Regions from separate parts of the Homo sapiens genome. Here region 1 is linked to region 2. A link means that fine-mapping ties the variant in region 2 to the expression of a gene that starts in the linked region. Tissue or cell type: lung. Region 2 holds a variant in brackets; the other region holds the start of a gene. All regions are shown on one strand. Distances are from middle to middle.

The links. PIP is the estimated chance that this variant, and not a neighbour inherited with it, causes the effect.
Region 1: PRKG2 starts here. The variant in region 2 is fine-mapped to the expression of PRKG2 in lung (GTEx, PIP above 0.99).

The regions. Positions count from the first base shown.
Region 1 is chr4:81,213,594-81,216,354 of GRCh38, reverse strand. PRKG2 (protein kinase cGMP-dependent 2) reads left to right here and starts at 1,133. Exons shown (of 19, transcript NM_006259.3): 1 at 1,133-1,419. LOC124900726 (a long non-coding RNA gene) reads right to left here and starts at 1,469. Exons shown (of 2, transcript XR_007058162.1): 1 at 1,397-1,469; 2 at 131-790. RefSeq lists enhancers at 1,100-1,600, 1,601-2,101.
Region 2 is chr4:81,160,716-81,163,476 of GRCh38, reverse strand. The region is part of intron 6 of PRKG2 (protein kinase cGMP-dependent 2); the gene reads left to right. Among named protein-coding and RNA genes, the nearest start is that of PRKG2-AS1, 2.8 kb to the left of the region's middle. The variant A/G (reference allele first, on the strand shown) is at 1,186.

The DNA.
Region 1 (2,761 bases), 53 kb before region 2:
AATGTACAGACTCTGGGATAGCTTCATGAAAAGGTACTTTGTGTACTTTCGCGATTTTCCTCCAGTTAGCACAAAAACAAACAGGACTATATTCCTCCTCCTCTGAAACTTAATGGTCTCATTCAACATATTTTACATGGGCCTCATTTTTAATATAAGTTTATGTATGTAACAGTGTATACAAATGTTACATGAGCCCCACTGCCACCATGTGGTTTAAAAACCCAAGAGAGTTGGTTGTAACATTCTCTAGATGCACAGTGAGGAATAGACCCTCACTATACTTTCCATCTCTCAACACAGAAACTGCCCTTGTCCTCCGTGAATTTGCTGGTGAAATTCCTCTGGGGGCAGAAGGAAAGGGAAAAAGCCACATGGAGATCTCACAACTCCAGAGCACAGCAAATAATGCGGTGGGGTGTACATATATATTTAGGAAACCATATTGCACCCTTCAGGAAAAAAAAATGTACTCAAAAGGTGACGAGAGAGCATTATCTTCTTGGGTGATCAAGAAAGCTCCCTTCCCAAAGACCTGCAGATTCGGAAGGTATAATCTCTGTCCCTCGAAACTCGATTCAACCCCTGCCCCCAGCATCACGTGAACTGGCAAACTAGATGTAAGTTATGGCCCCAGAGTCCGGGAGGGGCGCGTCGACGAGCTGCTTCGGGGTCACATGTCTTCGTAGAAAGGCATTGGTGTGACAGAGGAGGGCATGTCCAGGGTACGTGCGCCTGTTTGAGCTCTGGGAGGGAAGGCGAAGTGGAGAGAGCCTGCAGTGAAAACAGACTGGAAGGATGGAGGAAAGGGAGGGGAAGGAAAAAATGAACACCTCCCTGAACTTTCCTCTCCCCTCGTCCCACACACTTGAAATAGAAATAATAACATGAACAAAAATGCTTACAACCACGATGTTATCGCCCTACTTAAGTTGCCTCACTATGGAGGGTATGGGGTATAAAGTGCAGACTGCGGCTGTGTCGGGAGTAAAGGTTCGGGCTAGTGTGCGTGCGGGCGCGGGTGACCCCACCTTTAGGGAAGCCGGCGCCCAACTATCCAGGCAGTAGCCCCGGCTGACCCCCTCCCTCCTCCTTCCCTCCTCTCTTCCCTCCCTCCCTGCGTGTCTCCTCTGCACCGGCCCCCGCCGCGGAGCCAGGCGGCAGCACCGACGCCGCCGCAGCTCCTGCCCGCATCGCGCTAACCCGCGCCCCCGGCTCACACGTAGCCGGAGCGACTGAGCCGGCAGCCCCGGGCCCACGCTGCGCACCGTGTGCACGGCGGGGCTGGCTGAGCTGACCTGCGCTGGGCTCCGGCGCCGCAGGCGGCTGGGGAGGGCGGCGTGGGAGAGGACGCTGAGACGCAGGGGCGGCCGCGCCGAGGTGACAAGCTGCGCACCTGGAAAGTTACCCGGCTGTCTGGTGAGGTTCGTGGGCCGGGGGTCTTGGGCGCCGGGGTGTGAGGGCGCGCGGGGAGGGACGGGGTCGGGGTGCGCGCGTGTGCATGCTGTGAATGCGTTGCGCGATGTGCGCCTCTATTCCACACCCAGCCGGTCTCTTGCTTGTGCTGTTCGAGTGTGGACGTGTGTACGCGTTGCATTCGCTCGGTGTGGCAGCGTTTCGTGAGCTCCTGGAGGCAGGGAAAGGCTACTTGTGTTTAGAGGTTCTGTTGAGGGCGGGAGGGGCTCAGCCCCAGTGGGGAGTCCTCAGGGTTCTCTAGGTTTAGCGAGGAGAAGCGGTGGAGGCTGTTGCTCCGAGCTAGGGGCTTGGCGGTGCTGTCAGGGCTTGCGCTCCCGGCTTTGCTTCGTCGAGCTCTGGGTAGTTGCTAGGGGACAGTCCTCAGGCAAGGACTTTTAGGAGTCCTGGTAAACTTGTGTGGGTGTCCTTTTGTCACTCTGGGCACCGTGAGGCGCTTTCATATTTCTGTATTTCTCGGTGATGAAGAAACAAGAGCAAACAAAGCCCAGAAACCAGCCACTTTGGGGATGAGAAAAAAAGAAATAGGTTCAGTTCTGAGAAGAACTACGGTGCAACTACGAAGCAGCTGAGGCCAGAGCTGACAATAAAAGCAACGCATGCAGAATTAGTAGGTAGGAAGGGTGACGCTGGGACAAATGCCTTGATTTCCTGATCTTCATCTTGTTCCCCAAGTTCCCAGGGGCTTTTTCCTTCTTCTTCTTCTCCTTCTTTTTTTTTTTTTTTTTAAGGAAGAGAGCAACATACACCTGCCCCCACCCCACCACACCCCCATATTTAGAGTTTCTTAGAAATTGTCTCTTTTCTTTGCAAGTTTCTATTTAACTCATGAAGAAGGCGATCATCCCACATAACATACACTAGCTGTTTTCAGTACTCCTGTTTAGTTTTGCACAGGAGGGTATGAGCTAATATGGTAGAGAATTCTCTATGGAGAATTAGAGTGCATCCTCTCCGTTGGAACGCTGTATGACTAAGAATAAACGACCTGAAAAGATGATGCCCAGGGATCTTTCTCTTTTACGTGAAATCCTTAACTCCAGTTCTATGAAGTCATTACAAGTGAGGCTAATGAGAATTCACCTCACAGTGAAGGCATATGTTGCCTGGCTGTTGCCCAAGTCCTGTGATCCCTTATTGTCTTGCTTCCTCTAGGCTATTTTTCCTATGAATTATCTCTTCTTCTCCCATGTTTTCGTTTTTCATATCTCCTGTGCTTCATTATCCTGGAGCTACAGACATTTTCAAATTTTCATTATTTTAAAAATCCCTCACATGAATCATGATA
Region 2 (2,761 bases):
GTGTGTATTGGGAGTACATGCAGAATGTATTTCTTACTGTTGGTCAGAATTAAAACATGCTTGAAAACCATTGCTCTGCAGGATAGGGTCTATGGCTTCTTGGTCCTCTAAGGGACACCTTTGCAATGTAACCACAAGGACAATAACCACACTATTTGCATTTCTCTTTTTGGTCTCAGTGACCACCCTGGCTTGACTGGTTGCACTCCCCAGTTGGCAAACACTGGGCAGTCTAGCATCACAGTCAGTACTTACCACTATATATTTTTGGTCTGACCTATTTCCACAGCCTTTTCTGATCTATGAAGTTACTGTCAACACACTGGGAGGTATTATTTATCTTCCTCCCATGGTTTTGGGTGACAAAGAATCATCCGTGGAGAAAAATACCACTAGGAAGGTTGTCCCTTAAAAAATAACAAAGGTCTTCCTCAGTATCCCCTTTCAAGCTTTTCCCCCTTTGAAGTTATTCGGTTGTTAGGAATTAAAGCCACACCTCTGCACACATCAAAGGCTTCATAATAACTGAAGAACAGCCTAACAGCACTTCAGAAATTCTCTGTGTTTCTTCTGCTCCATGTGGGTAATGAGGACTGAAATTGTGATGGGAACAGGAGAGCTTGAAGAGCAGACTGTCTGAAATAGGAACTTCGAACACAATCCCCGCAGCTATAGCAAAGAACATTGAATGTTAGCTATGTGGTGAAGACAGCTGGACTGTGTGGGGGATCAGGATCATCCTATAAGGGTCATAGTCATCTCCACTGCAAAATCACACTGCATATAGTCAAGGTTTGTGATAAAGCTAAAATTGGGAAGGGATGAAGGGTTTGAGTAAGCAAACTATGAGGCAAAGACACGCCAAATATCATTGCTTAAATAAAACAGAAGTTTGTCACTCGTTAACATAACTGTCCAGGAAAGATAGTCCCAATTGGCTCCACACAGTCATTTGGGAATCCAAGCTGATGTCTACTCTGCCATTTTCAACATGTGGTTTTCCAGGTTTGTGTGGGCCATGCCATTATAATTGGGGAAAAAGTATAAAGACACATGCATGAAAGCATGCATGGGCTTGGTGTGGAATTGTCACAGATCACTTCCACTCAGATTATTTTAGATAAAAGTTCATCACATGGCCATAGCTAACAGCAGGAAGGCTGGCAAGTGTAACTTACCTGGACA[A/G]TCATATATTCCTCTGGAAGACTTTCGTGACCAGCTTACAGCCTCTTTCGTAAGATTAACAGTCACCGGGTACCTGGTGTGCACTAAACATTCCATCAGGTACTTTAGATACACCGTCTTAACTAGTCCTCAAACAACATTAGGTGTAGTAGTAAATATAATCTTAATTTTACAGAAAATGAAACAGAGGTCCAGAAGATGTAGGAAACAGCTGAGCAAATCATTATCATCCTCCTTCTTAGCATGGCAACAATTAATTGTGCATTTACTATATTTTAGATGCTCCTACTATTTCAGGCAACATTGCCTTTCATTGGCTTATTGTGGTAGGCAGAATGGTCCCCTGCCCCACCCCCCCTTCCAGATATCCAGATTCTAATCCCTGGAATGTATGAATATGTTATATTACATGGCAAAAGGGACTTTAATGGTATGCTTAAAGTTTGGGACTTTAAAATAGATTATCATTAATTGGCTAGGTGAATGAACTATTGAATATAGTTGCATGAGCATAGAATTATTTCTGGTTGGGGTCAGAGAGATGCAGCAGAAGTGAAATCCAGAGAGACTCTGAGGGTAAGAAATGAACATGCCATCACTGGTTCTGAGATGGAGGGGGCTCTCTGCAGGGATGGGAGAGACCTCATGAGCAGTTCCCACTGTCAGTCAGTAAGGAAATGGGATCTTATCCTGCAGGTGAATCCTTCCAGCAACCTGAATGACCTTGAAAATGAATTTTCCCCTGAGCTTCCAGAATGACATAAGCCCTATTGATACCTTGAGCTCCATCCTGAGAGACCCTAACTGAGAAACCTAATTGAGCAACACTGTGCCTAGGCTTTCTGACTCACGGAAACTGTAAATAATAAAAGGATGTGGCTCTAAGCCACCAAGTTTTTGGTTGTTACAGCAGCAATAGAGAACTAATGCGCTTTCCTAAATCTTTGAAGATATGGGTTGTTACTTTAATTTTATGGGTTGAGGAAAGTAAATTTCTTGTAAACTGGGATTTGAATATAGACCTGTCTGGCTTCAAAGAACTTTTTAACTCCAAAAATATTATGCTTCCTTCCATGAGATATTGACATATCTTATAAAATGTACATAGTGTTATGAAAATAAAACGCATGTTTGTTAGTATTAGGAGTAACATTTATTCCAGAAAAGTAAATAGGTTTTAAGAATAAATGATCAAGAAAGTATTGAAAAACAACAGATAAAAAAGTAGTTTAGTTTGGAATTTATTTTCAAGTCTAAAAGAAAAACAAGAGAGAGCAATTATGTGGTTAGTTATGCCTTTTTAAAAATTAAAGAAGCCACTTTTGTTTGTATAAATAATTAAGAGATCCATCTTAGTTCTGTGACTTTAAGACAAGATCAAATTAAAGCAAAGTAGAGGTGGACAGTTTAATCTATCCTTTGTTTTCTGAGATATTTAGTCGCTCTTTTGGTCTGACAGGTGGATAGATTACTTTTCCCTCCTCAAGAATTTTCTAATCACATAAATATTTACAAGAGAAACAGATGTTAATAAATAAAAAGAAATATGCAATAATTTAAGATTTCATGAGGATAG